Linked DNA regions of Homo sapiens: region 2 is linked to region 1. The links come from fine-mapping of genetic effects on gene expression. Tissue or cell type: fibroblasts. Region 1 holds a variant in brackets; the other region holds the start of a gene. All regions are shown on one strand. Distances are from middle to middle.

Evidence for each region. PIP is the estimated chance that this variant, and not a neighbour inherited with it, causes the effect.
Region 2: it holds the start of HIF3A, and the variant in region 1 is fine-mapped to the expression of HIF3A in fibroblasts (GTEx, PIP 0.91).

Annotation. Positions count from the first base shown.
Region 1 is chr19:46,271,707-46,279,882 of GRCh38, forward strand. No RefSeq gene overlaps it. Among named protein-coding and RNA genes, the nearest start is that of HIF3A, 21 kb to the right of the region's middle. RefSeq lists an enhancer at 1-207. The variant C/T (reference allele first, on the strand shown) is at 4,647.
Region 2 is chr19:46,293,382-46,301,557 of GRCh38, forward strand. It overlaps HIF3A (hypoxia inducible factor 3 subunit alpha), which reads left to right and starts at 3,661. Exons shown (of 15, transcript NM_152795.4): 1 at 3,661-3,721. The coding sequence starts at 3,696.

The DNA of each region.
Region 1 (8,176 bases):
AACTCACTCACTGTCATGAGAACAGCATGGGGGAAACTGCCCCCTTGATCCAGTCCCCTCCCACCAGGTCCCTCCCTCCTCACCTGGAGATTACAATTCAAGATGAGATTTGGGTGAGGGGACAGAGCCAAACCATGTCACCCACGGGTCAGCCACAGAGCATAGTTAGCTTTACTTTAGCTGTAATGCCTTCAGGATCTGTCATAGCCTGGGAGACCAGATCGTGCACTTCCTGGCCAATGACCTGGACATTTCTTCCAAACGCAGGACTCCTCAAGTGGAAAATCTTTGTTGTGAAGCACCCTTTGAGGTTTGCCAAGATTTTCTTTCAGCTCTGAATCATAGTCTGAGTATTTTTCTGCCCACCTCAGCTTCTCTCTGTCAAGCAAAACTGACATATCTGGAAAGTAAGAAAATAAACCAGGCCACATGCAGTGGCCCATGCCTGTAATCTCAGCACTTTGGAAGGCCAAGGCCAGAGGATCATTTGAGTCCCAGGGTTTGAGACGACCCTGGGCAACACAGGAAGACCCTATCTCTACAAAAAATGTTAAAAGTTAACCAGGCGTGGTCAAGTGTGCCTGTGGTCCCAGCTGCTTGGGAGGCTGAGGTGGGAGGATCGCTTGAGCCTGGGAGTTGAGGACCAGCCCAGCCTGGGAAACAGCGAGACCCTGTCTCCACAACAAACAAAATAAGTTGGGTGTAGTGGCACACACCTGTAGTCTCAGCTACTTGGGAGGCTGAGGTTGGAGAATCGCTTGAGCCTGGGAGATCAAGGCTGCATAGAGCCAAGATTGCACCACTGAGCTCCAACCTGGGTGACAGAGCAAGACCCTGTCTCAAAAAAAAAGAAGAGGAAGAGGAAGAAGAGAGAAAGAAAGAAAGAAGGAAAGAAAGAAAGAGAGAAAGAGAGAAGGAGAGGGGAGGGGAGGGGAGGGAGAAGAAGAAAGTTCCCTCATCTATCAAGAAACTGGACCTGCCAAAGAGTAACACAGTTGCCTTCCCTGAAATTTCCTTAACCCTAGAAGATTAAAATTCACATCACAAGGCCGGGTGCGGTGGCTCATGCTGGTAATCCCACACTTTGGAAGGCCGAGGTGGGTGGATCGCCTGAGGTCAGGAGTTCAAGACTAGCCTGGCCAACATGGTGAAACCCCGTGTCTACTAAAAATACAAAAATTAGCCAGGCGTGGTGGCATGCGCCTGTAGTCCCAGCTACTCGGGAGGCTGAGGCAGGAGAATCACTTGAACCCAGGAGGCGGAGGCTGCAGTGAGCTGAGATCGCACTGGAGATTGGACTCCAGCTTTGGCAACAAGAACAAAACTCTGTCTCAAAAAAAAAAAAAAGAGAAAGAAAAACTTACATCACAGAGAAAAAGGCTGAAAATAAAACACCACAACTGAAAGCCAGGCAAACTGCATCCCAAACCACTGTCTGCTCTCCATCTTATTCAACTGGCAAAGAAAATTATTTACTAACTTTCACTCGCATCCGTGTGAAGACACCACCAAACAGGCTTTGTGTGAGCAACAAGGCTGTTTATTTCACCTGGGTGCAGGCGGGCTGAGTCTGAAAAGAGAGTCAGCGAATGCAGATAGGAGTGGGGCTGTTTTATAAGATTTGGGTATGTAAAGGAAAATTACAGTCAAAGGGGGAGGTTGTTCTCTGGCTGGCAGGAGTTGGGGGTCACAAGGTGCTCAATAGGGGAGCTTTTGAGCCAGGATGAGCCAGGAGAAGGAGTTTCACAAGATAATGTCATCAGTTAAGGCAGGAACAGGCCATTTTCATTTCTTTTGTGGTGGAATGTCATCAGTTAAGGCAGGAACCGGCCATCTGGATGTGTACGTGCAGGTCACAGGGGATATGATGGCTTAGCTTGGGCTCAGAGGCATGACATTTCTGTCTTCTTATATTAATAAGAAAAATAAAACGAAATAGGGTTGAAGTGTTGGGGCAGTGAAAATTTTGGGGGGTGGTATGGAGAGATAATGGGCGATGTTTCTCAGGGCTGCTTTGAGCAGGATTGGGGTGGCATGGGAACCTAGAGTGGGAGAGATTAAGCTGAAGGAAGATTTTTGTGGTAACAGTTGATATTGTGGGGTTGTTAGAAGAAACATTTGTCATATAGAATTATTGGTGATGGCCTGGGTACGGTTTTGTATGAATTGAAAAAAGAACGGAATAAGACAAGGAGAAAAACAGGTATTAAAGGACTAAGAATTGGGAGGACCTAGGACATCCAATTAGAGAGTGCCTAAGGAGGTTCAGCATAGCCCTGCCAGCAAAGATTATTTGTTTACTTTAAGAGGGAGTTAAGAGTGGCAGTTTGGGGATAGCACCAGGAGATATCCGCTGCGATGGTTTGGAGAAACAGTGTAAACCAGCAGTGTAAACAAGAGCAGGGCATTTATGAGTAGTTGAGAACGGTGAGTAGGAGTTGACTAGACAGAAGATAGTAAGGATGACAAGTTTTTTGGGGCGCAGTCCAAGTTGGTCTGGTGTCTGGAATGAGACTGGGGCCTAATAAAAAGGATTGTCCATACAGGAGTTCAAATGGGCTGTAACCTGCAGCATTTCGAAGACAGGCCCGAATTCTGAGAAGGGAAAGTGATAAAAGTACTGTCCAGTCCTTTTTAAGTTGGTGACTGAGTTTGGTGAGGTGTGTTTTTAAAAGACCATCAGTTCACTGAATACTAAGAGCCTGAGAAACTCCTTGGGTGATTTGACTAATAAAGGCCGGTCTGTTATAGGACTGTATAGAGGTGGGAAGGCCAAACCAAGGAATTATGTCTGACAGAAGGGAAGAAATGACCGTGGTGGCCTTCTCAGACCCTGTGGTAAAGGCATCTACCCATCCAGTGAAAGTGTCTACCCAGACCAAGACGTATTTTAGTTTCCTGACTCGGGGCATGTTGAGTAAAGCTAATTTGCCAGTCCTGGGTGGGGGCAAATCCTCAAGCTTGATGTGTAGGGAAGGGAGGGGGCCTGAATAATCCCTGAGGAGTAGTAGAACAGCAGATGGAACACTGAGAAGTGATTTCCTTGAGGATAGATTTCCACGATGGAAAGGAAATGAGAGGTTCTAAGAGGCAGGCTAGTGGCTTGTACTATAGCATAGCCTGCCTTTGCCGGTGTGTGGCGATTAGGCCTGGTGGAACTGCCATCAATAAACCAAGTGTGACCAGGGTGAGGAACAGGAAAGAAGAAATATGGGGAAATGGGGTGAATGTCAGGTGGATCAGAGAGATGCAGTCATGGGGGTCAGGTGTGGTATCAGGAATAATGTGGGAGGCCGGATTGAAGTCCGGGCCAGGAACAACGGTAATTGTGGGAGACTCAACAAAGAGTGAGTACAGCTGAAGGAGCCGGGGAGCAGAAAGTATATGTGTCAGGTGTGAGGAAGAAAATAGATTTTGGAAATTATGAGAACCATAGAGAGTGAGATGAGCAGAGTTTGTGATTTTGAGGGTCTCTAAAAGTATTAGGGTGGCAGTGGCCGCCACATGCAGACATGAGGGCTAGGCAAAACAGTAAGGTCAAGTTGTTTGGATAAAAAGGGTACAGGACGCGGTCCCAATTCTCGTGTAAGAATTCCGACTGCACAGCCCTGTACTTCGGCTGTGTGTAATGAAAAGGGTTGGGATGAGTCAGGGAGAGCTAGGGTAGGAGCAGTCTCTAAAGCTGTCTTCAAGGAACGGAAAGAGGAGTGGGGAAAGGATTTAGGATCTATGGGGTCAGCTAGGTTTCCTTTTGTGAGTTTATATAATGGTTTTGTTAGGATGGCAAAACCAGGTATCTAAAGTCAAAAGTATCCAACCATGCCTAGGAAGGAAAGGAGTTGTTTTGTAGAAGGTGTTGGGGTTTGAGAGATCAGTCGGACACGATTGGCAGGGAGAGCATGGGTGTTTTTATGAGAATTATGCCAAGATAGGTAACAGATGAGGAAGAAATTTGGGCTTAACTGAAGTAATGGGGGCTGTCTGTGAAGCCTTGCGGCAGTACAGCCCAGGTAATTTGCTGAGCCTGATGGGTGTCAGGGTCAGTCCAAGTGAAAGCGAAGAGAGGCTGGGATGAAGGGTGCAAAGGAAGAGTAAAGAAAGCATGTTTGAGATCCAGAATAATGGGTTGTGGAGGGAGGTATTGAGGATAGGAGAGTATATGGGTTTGGCACCATGGGGTGGATAGGCAAAACAATTTGGTTGATAAAGCACAGATCCTGAACTAACCTGTAAGCCTTGTCTGGTTTTAGGACAGGTGAAATGGGGGAATTGTAAGGGGAGTTTATAGGCTTTAAAAGGCCATGCTGTAGCAGGAGAGTGATAACAGGCTTTAATCCTTTCAAAGCGTGCTGTGGGATGGGATATTGGCATTAAGTGGGGTAAGGGTGATTAGGTTTTAATGGGATGGTAAGGGGTGCATGATGGGTCGCTAAGGAGGGAGGAGAGGTGTCCTATACTTGTGGGTTAAGGTGGGGGGATACAAGGGGAGGATGTGAAGGAGGCTTTGAACTGGGGAAAAGGGCAGCAATGAGGTGTGGCTGTAGCCCAGGAATAGTCAGGGAAGCAGATAATTTAGTTAAAGTGTCTCGGCCTAATAAGGGAACTGGGCAGGTGGAGATAACTAAAAGGAGTGCTTTAAAGAGTAT[C/T]GTCTAAGTTGGCACCAGAGTTGGGGAGTTTTAAGAGGTTTAGAAGCCTGGCTGTCAATACCCACAACAGTTATGGAAGCAAGGGAAACAGGCCCTTGGAAAGAAGGTAATGTGGAGTGGGTGGCCTCTGTATTGATTAAGAAGGGGACGGACTTACGGTGCACTGTGAGAGTTACCTAGAGCATCTGTGACGGTCCAGGAGGCTTCTGAGATGATCGGGCAGTGTCAGTCTTCAGCTGCTAAGCCGAGAAGATCTGGGAAGGAGTCAGTCAGAGATCCTTGGGCCAGAGTTCTAGGGGCTCTGGAAGTGGCTGCCAGGTGAGTTGAACAGTCCGATTTTCAGTGGGGTCCCACACAGATGGAACAGAGCTTGGGAGGAATCCCAGGCTGTGGGCATTCCTTTGCCCAGTGGCCAAATTTCCAGCACTTGTAGCAAGTTCCTGGGGGAGGAGGTTCTGGAGGAACCCCTGGCTGCTGCGGTTCAGGCATTTGGAGTTCTTGCGTGCTGGAGATGTGGCTGGGGTTTCTCTCACAGTGGAGGTAAGGAATTGCAACTCAGAAATATATTGTTACTTAGCTGCCTATACTTTATTATTGTACACATTGAAGGCGAGGCTAATTAAGTCCTGTTGCGGGGTTTGAGGGCCGGAATTTAATTTTTGGAGTTTTATTTAATGTCAGGAGCAGACTGGGTAATAAAATGTATATTGAGAATAAGACGGCCTCTTGACCTTCTAGGGTCTAGGGCTGTAAAGCATCTCAGGGTTGCTGTCAAACGAGCCATGAACTGGGCTGGGTTTTTATATTTCATGAAAAAGAGCCTAAACGCTATCCAATTTGGGATAAAGAAAAAGGAACATTAACCTGGACTATGCCTTTAGCTCCAGCCACCTTTTTAAGAGGAAATTGCTGGGCAGGTGGGGGAGGGCTAGTCACAGAACAAAACTGTAAGCCGGACCAGGTGTGAGGAGGGGAGGTGATAAAAGGATTGTAGGGTAGGGGAGCAGAGGCTGAGGAAGAATTGGGACCTAGCTCAGCCTGGTGAGGAGCAGCCTTGGGGAGAAGGGGAGAGGTCAGATGGGTCTGTAGAAAAGGAAGATTGGAAAGAGGAAAGACTCAGCAATGCTTGGGGTTGGGACTGAGGGACAGGCAGCAGGGAAAGAAGGAAGATTTAGGACGAGTTGCATTGGGAACAGAGACTAGGGAGGGACCGATGTGTAAAAGAATGCCTGGACATCAGGCACCTCAGACCGTTTGCCCATTTTACGGCAAGAATTATTTAGATCTTGTAGGATGGAAAAATCGAAAGTGCTGTTTTCTGGCCATTTAGAGCCATTGTCAAGTTGGTATTGGGGCCAAGTGGTGTTGCAGAAGAAAACAAGGGGTTTAGGTTTTAGGTCAGGTGTGAGTTGAAGAGGTTTTAAGTTTTTGAGAACACAGGCTCAGGGAGAAGAGGGAGGAATGGAGGGTGGAAGGTAGCCCATAGTGAAGGAGGCAAGCCCAGAGAAAAGAGAGAGTAGAGACACAGAAGGGGTGGGGGGTGATTACCCCCCAGGAAAGTGGAGAAGGGGTAGAGACATGGAGAGAAGGGGTTGGGGGGTTCTTGCCCCCCAAAAAAGTGGTACTTGCTGCTAAGGGTGAAGGACCAAGGCAGGCATCCCCACATGGTCAGACACCTCTGAAATGTGGGTGAATAATCAGGCAGGCGTCCCCACACAATTAAACACCAAGGGAAGACTGTCTTCCCGAGTCTGTGACTGGTGCCGGAGTTTTGGGTTCACGGATAAAACGCGTCTCCTTTGTCTCTACCAGAAAAGGAAAGGAACTGAAATTAAGAGAAGGGAGAGATTGAAGTGTGAAGCCAAGATTGAAAGGAGAAAGAGGTTGAGGGATAGTGAGAGGGGTTGGAGAAGAGAGTAAAAAGAGACCGCTTACCTGATTTAAAATTGATGAGATGTTCCTTGGGCTGGTCAGTCTGAGGACCTGAGGTCATAGGTGGATCTTTCTCGCGGGACAAAGAGCAGGAGGACAGGGGATTGATCTCCCAAGGGAGGTCCCCCGATCGGAGTCATGGCACCAAAATATTTCACTCGCGTCCGTGTGAAGAGACCACCAAACAGGCTTTGTGTGAGCAACAGGGCTGTTTACTTCACCTGGGTGCAGGCGGGCTGAGTCGGAAAAGAGAGTCAGGGAACGGAGATAGGGGTGGGGCCGTTTTACAAGATTTGGGTATGTAAAGGAAAATTACAGTCAAAGGGGGAGGTTGTTCTCTGGCTGGCAGGGGTGGGGGTCACAAGGTGCTCAGTAGGGGAGCTTTTGAGCCAGGATGAGCCAAGAGAAGGAATTTCCCAAGATAATGTCATCAGTTAAGGCAGAAACAGGCCATTTTCACTTCTTTTGTGGTGGAATGTCATCAGTTAAGGCAGGAACCCGCCATCTGGATGTGTACGTGCAGGTCACAGGGGATATGATGGCTTAGCTTGGGCTCAGAGGCCTGACACTAACCATTGTCTGAGCATTAGGGCCATTCATTTCCCCCTAAAAATCACTGAATATCACGCAAATTGCCATATTTCCCCCATGTCCCCTTCCCCTATGAAAAAGGCTAAGAAGTATCTGTACCCCATTGGGTTATTGGGTAATCAGTCTCCTGTGAGTCCCCTGGGCAATGCATGTTAAAAATACATTTATATGCTGCCTTCTTCTACTAGTCTGCCTTTTGTCACTTCATTTTCAGTGAACCTTCAGAGGGTGACTGAGGATGTGTTCCCTCTTTGCCCCTACACAGCCAAAGTGGTTAACATCTCCCCCGAAATCCTTTACAGGCATACAAAAATCATATTACAAACCCTCCATTCCATCCCCAGTTCATACCCCAGCCACCTCCTCTATCTGACCCTCACACATCAATCTGCCTGAATCACTCAGGGCCAGGTACTGGACCACTGAAGACCAGCCGCGCATTCTTGAGTCTCTGACATCATTCAAAGCGGCCAATCCTGAGCTGTTTCCCCTTCCCTGCCTTGCCTTTCCCATGGAAACCGCAATAAAGGCCCTGGCCTAGGCTTTCCCTCTCTCTCCCACCTGCTGACCGAACCTGGTGCTTTCCCCTGCATGGCATGGCATGCGCCCGTCTCTCAGGAAGTGTAGGTAATCAATTCTTTCAAAGGCATCAACTTCATGTTGTCACTCAGTCACTTCCAGAAGATTAAATCTCATAAAGGCCGGGTGCAGTGGCTTATGTCTGTAATCCCAGCACTTTGGGAGGCCGAGGTGGGTGGATCACTCCTGAGGTCAGGAGTTCGAGACCAGCCTGGCCAACATGGCAAAGCCCCGTCGCTACTAAAAATACAAAAATTATCCAGGCGTGGTGGCACGCACCTGTAATCCCAGCCGCTCGGGATGCTCAGGCAGGAAAATCGCTTGAACCCAGGAGACAGAGGTTGCAGTGAGCTGAGATCATGCCACTGCACTCAGCCTGGAGCTAGACTCCGTGTCAAAATAAATAAATAAATACATCTCATGAGAAG
Region 2 (8,176 bases), 22 kb after region 1:
TACAGATGAGGTCTCACTCTGTTGCCCAGACTGGAGTGCAGTGGCACAATCATAGCTCATTGCAGCCTCCAGCTCCTGGGCTCAAGCAATCCTCCCGTCTCAGCCTCCCAAGTAACTGGGACTATAGGTGCACATCACCATGCCTGGCAAAGTTAAAAAAAAAAATTAAGAGATAGAGGCCGGGCCGGGCGCGGTGGCTCACGCCTGTAATCCCAGCACTTTGGGAGGCCGAGGCAGGTGGATCATGAGGTCAGGAGATCGAGACCATCCTGGCTAACAAGGTGAAACCCCGTCTCTACTAAAAATACAAAAAATTAGCCGGGCGCGGTAGCGGGCGCCTGTAGTCCCAGCTACTCGGGAGGCTGAGGCAGGAGAATGGCGTGAACCCGGGAAGCGGAGCTTGCAGTGAGCCGAGATTTCGCCACTGCAGTCCGCAGTCCAGCCTGGGCGACAGAGCGAGACTCCGTCTCAAAAAAAAAAAAAAAAAAAAAAAAAAAGAGATAGAGGCCGGGTGCAGTGGCTCATGCCTCTAATCCCAGCTCTTTGGGAGGTTGAGATGGGCGGATCACCTGAGGTCTGGATTTTGAGACCATTTTGGCCAACATGGTGAAACCCCATCTCTACTAAAAATACAAAAATTAGCCAGGCGTGATGTCAGATGCCTGTAATCCCAGCTACTAAGGAGGCCAAGGCAGGAGAATTGCTTGAACCTGGGAGGCAGAGGTTGCAGTGAGCCAAATCGCACCAATGAACTCCAGCCTAGGCGACAAGAGCAACACTCAGTCTCAAAAAATAAATAAATACATACATAAATAAAATAAAAATTAAGAGATGGGATCTTGCTATGTTGCCCAGGCTGGTCTCAAACTCCTGGCCTCAAACGATCCTCCCCCTTCAGCCTCCTGAGTCATTGAGATTACAGTTGAGAGCCACTGCACTCGGCTGTCCCCAACCCTCTCTCTGCTTGCCTCACTGTTATTCCTTCTTAAGTCTGCATCCAAATGCCCCTTCCACAATAAACCTTTCTGACAGCCCCGACAGGGTGGGTAAGGTGCTTCCACCAAGCTCCCACAGTTCCTGGCAGTTCAGACCACTCTACAATTTAATATTAAAAGGTCTTAAATTCCCACTTAACTTCAGTTCCAGGTACAAAACTTGTCTCTTCAAACAAGAACATATCCTTTAGCAAAAGTTGGAAATCATTTTAACGGACACATTTCCCTTATTGCCTTAGCTGCTGGGAACCTCTGAGCGAAGTTTAACGCTAACCTACATCGTAGAGAGACACCTGTTGCATCTCTGTGTGTAAAGTGTTAGTTCTATTTTAATGTTTGTTGAAATAGTGCCAGCTTTTCTTGGGCACTGTAAATCCCTCCGATTGGCTCTCTGCTGTGACTCCCTCATACCAAAATCAATGAGTTCTTCCACTGAATCTATCATCCAACTACTGCCCCCTCCAAACTCTTCCAACACACCCACTGGAACTCTCGTTGTCTTGTTAACAACCACTCCCCTTCCTCAGTTTCTCCCTTGAACATCTCTTCTACCCCATGTCCTTACCTAAACCCTAAGAAGCTCTAAGAACAATGCTTCCTCTGCAGCCCCTTCTACTATTTATTTATTTATTTATTTATTTAGAGACAGAGTCTTACTCTGTCACTCAGGCTGGAGTGCAATGGCATGATCTTGGCTCACTGCAACCTCTGCCTCCTGGGTTCAAGCGATTCTCCTGCCTCAGCCTCCCGAGTAGCTGGGATTACAAGGGTGTGCCACCACACCCGGCTAATTTTTGTATTTTTAGTAGAGATGGGGTTTCACCATGTTGGCCAGGCTGGTCTTGAACTCCTGACCTCAGGTGATCTGCCCGCCTCAGCCTCCCAAAGTGCTGGGATTACAGTCGTGAGCCACCATGGCCGGCCCCCCTTTATAATTCAGACTGCTCCTTTTCTAACATCCCACCTGCCTCTACACTGAGGGTTGAAAGCTGATTTCTCTATCAAGATTCTTTTGGGTGCAAGTATCTAAAATCCATTCAAACGAATCTAAGCACAAAGCAAATAAGGCAATAGTGAATGAAGCAATATTTGACAAAAGCAACAGCAAAAAAAAAAAAAAAAAAAAAAAAAAGCCCATTGTGGGTTTCATTTGAAAAATCCAAGAATTAAACTGGAGTTCAGGTATGGCTGGATCCAGGCACTCAAGTGCTGGTGTCAAAACTGCCTTTCACAATCGTTCATTTCTGCACAATCTCTTTTGCACTGAACCTCATCTCATAAAGCCTCTCCTCTCTTTGTGGCAGTGTGAGCCCCATCTGCTCCATCTGCCCAGCAATTCCAGCAGACATAGAAAATCCTCTTTCCTAATGGTTTCAGCAAATGTCTCAGGGTTGATTCTCATTGGGCTAAATTAGGTAACATGCCTTCCCTGAACCAATCACTGTGGCCAGGGAAGCAGACTCAACTGATTAGCCAGGTTTGGATCCTATGTCCATCCCTGGAGCTGGTGAAGGCAGAGCAGTGGCCAAGCCCTATTCAAATTAAATAGATGAAGAGGACAGAGAAGTGGTTTCCCAAAAGAAAACAGAGTGGGGAACTGGCGTGAGCCGGGGAGCCGTGTGGATTCCTGGAGGAAGAGTGTGCTAAGCTGTGGGAACAGCAAGTGCAAAGGCCCTAAGGTGAGCAACTTGCCTGGCAAGTTCAAGGTTCAACAAGGCCACTTCTGCTGTAGTATCCTCTTCCCTGCCAACCAAATCCAGAATAGTGGTCCAACACACACACACACACACACACACACACACACTCTGTTCCTTATCCAACTGTAATGCTTTCACCCTTGCTTGGTACCTTTGTACTTCTCCCTTCATAGTCGACTAGTTAAAAAAAAATACATTTCTCGGCTCTTTTTTGAAGTAGGTGTGATTGAGTTAAAACATATTTACTTGACATAAGCTTAATTATTCATCAATGGGAACCTGAAAAGGGAGTCAGAGAGGCCAAGAGGTTAGGGTGGAGTAGAGGGGGTAGGGAAGGTAAGCTGGGGTGCAGAGGGTGCAGACTGGAGGAATGGGGGCGAAGTGGGGTATGGGACTGGGGTGGCAGGGAGGGGCTGGGGAGAGAGAGAGAAGGGTAGGTGCCAGAGGGCCAAGGATTGTGGAACTGGGGTGGGGTTGGGAGTTGGGGGGTGGGGAGGAGATGTGGGGTACTCTGTGAATACCTTAGAAGGGATAGAGAAGGCAGGGCTAGGGGTTTGGAAGGGGTGGGATTGGAGGTCAGAGGGGCTCAACTGGGGTTAGGAAATGGAAAGGTGAGAAGAGGTGGGGGTTAGAGGCTGGGGACTGGGGTCCAGAGAGCAGAGTGAACTGAGTGGGTTCAGAAGAGTACTGGCGTTGGCACTTCAGAGGCTGGACTAGAGAAGGCGCGTTCAGCCGACGGTGCGGGATACACTGCCGAGGAAGTCCGCGGCGAGGGGCGTGGTTGGGGGGTGTGTATTACACGGTATCCCCCCCTTGCCTTTCCAAGTCTTTCCCTCTGGTTCCGCCTCCTTTTCAGGAGTGACATACCGTTGCCCAATCAGAGCCTCAGGCCTGGCGTGGCACAGCCAACCGCGCGGCGTGGGGAGGAGCTGGGGAGGGGGCTCGCAAGGCCGGGGAGGGGGCTAGGGGCCTCCGAGGGCTCCGGAGCGGCGACTGGCGAGCCATGGCGCTGGGGCTGCAGCGCGCAAGGTACTGAAGTTCGGGGGCAGGAGTTCTGGGAATTGGGGGGCTCTCCTCCTGGAGACCCCTGAGCTGGATTGTTGGGGGGGGTGGGGTTCGCGGGTGCGAGCCAAGAACGCCCCGGGGCGCGCAGTTGGAGGCACATCCCCACCGCACTCTCCACCCTTAGGGACTGCAGGGGTGGGGGATTCCCTACGTCTCTGGCTGCCCCGCCCCTCTGGCCAAGAGCGGCTTCGGGGTTCCCGATTTCTCGCTACCCAAGGCTCATTTACCCTCCTGGTTGGGGGTGGAACTTGGGATTCCTGATAAATTAGGGGTGATTGCATTTGAGCAGTCCCCAGGCTTCTGCGGGAGATATTCGCCCTCCACATATTGATCCCTCTGGCCTCTGAACCCCCCAAAATTGAGGGTATTCTTTGCCACCAGGTGCCTGGGATCCTAGGTGATATGGGATACCCCTAAATGGAGCCTTCCCACATATAGGGAGTCCCTTGGAATGGCATTCAGCTCCTGAGTTCAAGAGAGGAGAGATCTCCTCTAATAGTATGCTTCCTGACACAGTCTCCTAAACATTGGGTTTCCCTAGAAATGGGCAGAGGGGAGCCCCTTTCAGAAGCCGTCTGGGACCCTTCCCAAGAGACTTTTTGTATCCTTTCAAAAGCCAGAGTCACCCCCTTAAATAACAGGGAAACAAGCTGGACCCACTTCCCAAAGTCCAGCCCCTCATCTCACCCCTGCACCCCCATCCTGAGAGACAGGGGAGCCTCATCCAAGCTTTATTTTGGGGAGACTCCATGGCAGGGTGCTGTGAGCCTGCAGGCTGTGATGGGAACGCCCCCTGCCGCAGTACTCAGATGGGGTCATCCCGGGCAGAGGGTGGGTTTCTGGGTTCACTTGCCCAGCAGGTGCAGCTCTGCTGGAACACAGGGGAACCTGTGCCCTGGGGCCGCTGCCGGGGGGTTTTATCTGGCCATGTTCCCATGGGACCCTGGAAAATGTTCTAGGTCCTCAGCTTTCCCTGTCCAATGTGAGGCACCCAGTAAGCCTCACCCCCTTCCCTCCTCCCTGGCTTCTCAGGCCTGATTGGATCCATGCACACCCCATGTTTCTAACCGCCCCCATCCTCTCCCCTGTCCCCTACTCTATTCCAGGCCCTGGCTCTGGGCCTAACAAGGAACTCTATCCCACCCCTTTTGGGCCAGCTGTCGTTCCGCCCCTCTCAGCGCCCCCTCCTGGCTGGGTGGGGGCCCCTCTTGGCTGAGCTCGGGTGCCCCCCCTCCCCACCCAAGGCCGGCCCTTTCCTGTGGAGTCATCTCACCGCCGTGCGCACCCACTCGTAACTCGCACCCGGGTCCTGGCTGCACCGCATCCCCTCCTGCACCCCCTGGATGGCCCTTCAGCCAACGGGGGCCTGGGCGATGGTGAGTGGGCCCCCAACACCTCCTTTCCCCCTTCCCTTCCTCTAGCTGGGGCTGGCTGCCATCCCACTGTGGCCAAGGATGCTCTTGGGAAGTCCCTGGTGGGTACGGCTTGCAGCCCAGAGTGCCCAGTGAGGTAGTATTCCCGGAGAAGATAGGATTTTGGGGACCAGCACCCTACCAGATTACCATGTCCTTGAGAACAGGCAGAGTCGGGGGGCAGAGAGACTCCCCCAGACCCCCATGCCAAGTCCCTTTGCAAACCCAAACCCTGCCTCTGGTCTCTCAGGACACCTCTCTGCAATGCCAAAAGGCATCCTTGCCCAGCTACAACCTAAACCCCCACCCACCAAATCCTCTGTGCTTTTCGTAAGACGCCCCCCCCCAATACCCAGCTGGGTGTCAGAATAGAAAAGCCCAGAAGTAGCCCTGAATGTGGGCAGGGACTGCCTGCTTTTATTATGCCTTCCTCATGGGTGGCAAATTCTTCAGGGCAGGGAAGAGGTGAACTTCTCTCCTTCCTGGTTGGAGGGGGGCACTGGGCCCCAACCCCCATTCTCAGGCCTCACCCTGAGCCCGCCAGGCCCTGGCCCCACCCCCTGTTCTTGGCTGGAACACGGAGGAAGGGTGGCAGGGTTCCAGCTGCACGTCCCAAGCTGGGCAGAGTGCCAGGGGGCTGGACCAGGGCTGGGCATGGGGCCAGCTGGGGCGATCTGGAGGCAGCAGGGGTGTGACGGGGGAAGGGACCGAGGCTGCTAGGCAAAAGAGGGGTGGGGCAGGGGCCTCTTGGGTGGGGGCCACACCTGCCAAGAGCACAGGGCCCAAAGACAGGGTTCAAATCCCATCTCACCCACTTCCTGGTGGTGTGGAATTGTGTCAGTGACTGCCGCTCTGAGCCTCACTTTCAGATCCTGGAAATACGGGCAGGCCGGGTGCGGTGGCTCAGGCCTGTTATTCCAGCACTTTGGGAGGCTGAGGTGGGCGGATTGCTTGAGTTCAAGACCAGCCTGGGCAACATGGCAAAATCTCATCTATACTAGAAGTAAGCAAATTAGCCAGGCATGGTGGTGAGTGTCTGTAGTCCCAGCTACTCAGGAGGCTGAGGTGGGAGGATGGCTTGAGCCTGAGGCAGAGGTTGTAATGAGCCAAGATCAGGCCACTGCACTCCAGCCTGGACAACACAGCCGGACCTTGTCGCAAAAAAAAAAAAAATAGAAAAATAGAAAAAAAAAAGAAAACTGGGTATCACACTCCCTTTCCACCACCCCAGATCAAGATGAGGAGCCAGTAGTGAGGAAGCAGACGGTGGGGGGCGGGACACCCAACAGGTGTGCCACAAACTGAGCTCAAGTCAGAGTAGACAGACCTGGCTTGAATCCTGTCTCTGCTACTAAAAGCTGTGTGGCTTCAGTTTCATCACCTCTTTGGGCCTGCTTCCTCATCCGGAAAATGGGGAAAGTCATTGCAGGAACATGGTCGGATTCACTGAGAAGTGGTTGAACATAGTTCAGTGTCAATGGAGGGCGCTGGGTTACTTGGGCTGGGGATGCCATTGCTCCAAATCTCAGTTTCTGCCTCTTTAAAAGGAGAGATCACTTCTCCTGCTCAATAGGGTAGTAGTAAGGACTTAATGGGTTCTCTAGCTCCGTGAGTGTTCAACACACCAATGCTATCATTATTACAGTATCACTGTTATTTAATCCTCCTTTTAAGATGCTTGTGTAAAAACCATGTATGTAATTGCATGCACACACCACACTATGGGGCGTGTAGAGTAATCCACAGGTTACTGTAAAGCCCAAGAAGCTCCTAAGCCCATGCTTTCCATCTCTGATACGCACAGAGGGAGAACAGTAAGTCTAACCTTGGCCGGGCGCGGTGGCTCATGCCTGTAATCCCAACATTTTGGGAGTCCGAGGCAGACAGATCACCTGAGGTCAGGAGTTCGAGACCAGCCTGGCCAACATAGTGAAACCCTGTCTCTACTAAAAATACAAAAATTACCCAGGCATGGTGGCAGGAGCCTGTAATCCCAGCTACTCAGGAAGCTGAGGCAGGAGAATCGCTTGAAACTGGGAGGCAGAGGTGACAGTGAGCCAAGATCAAGCCACTGCACTCCAGCCTGGGCAACAGAGCAAGATTACGTTCACACAGCTTATAAGCAGTCACACAGCTTGTAAGTAGTGGAGCTTGTAAGTAGTAGCTTATAAGTAGTGGAGTTGATAAGTAGTAGAGTCAGGATTGGAACCCTGAGCCAGAGGAACTAGCCCCCAGTCTGTGTAATGGGAAAGACCCACACTTCCCAGTAGAACATCCAGAGGGCAGGCTGGGAGCTGGAAGGAGGGTCCCTCCGCAGCCACCAGCTGGCTCCTTCTATGGAAGAAGCAGCCCAGCCACAGAGGATTACAGAGCCCAGCTGCCTGGGAGGTGGGGCACTGGCCCCACCTCCCTGCCAGTTCCCACTCCCTGTTCCCTGTCGGGCCCCCAGCTCCGTGAGGCCCTCTCGCCCCCACCCTCTGGGCAGGAAGACAAACAGGGCTGGAACAGAACAGGACGGAATGTCCTCTCAGGCAGGCAGGACTGAGGCCCCTGCCCCCACCAGCCAGGAAGGAGGGGACGGGGACAGGGGCCGTATCTCCCCTGCTCCAACCCTCCATCCAAACTGCCCCCTTCTGTGCCTCCCTCCCTGCTGTACTGAGGATTTTATTTTCCTTCTGTCTCCAGACAGGAAAATATCCCCTTGCCCTGGGGGGTGGGGCCGCAGGTCTCTTGCCTGAGGCTGGGGTTGATGCCACCCCAGAAGCACCCTCTGCTCTTGAATTTAAGAAGGGACAGTGTCCCCTCCTAGAGGTTCTGCTTCCCTCGGATGGGTCCCAAGGAGGGGATGAGAAAAAGCCTGAAGACTGGAAACTCACCGCCCAGATTCAAATCCCAGCTCAGCCAGTTGTTGGCTTTGGGGCTTCTTGGGCAAGGACTTCACCTTTCAGAAGCTGTTTCCCCACTGTAAAGTGGAAGTTTAAAATGCCCCCCTCCGCCGGGCATGGTG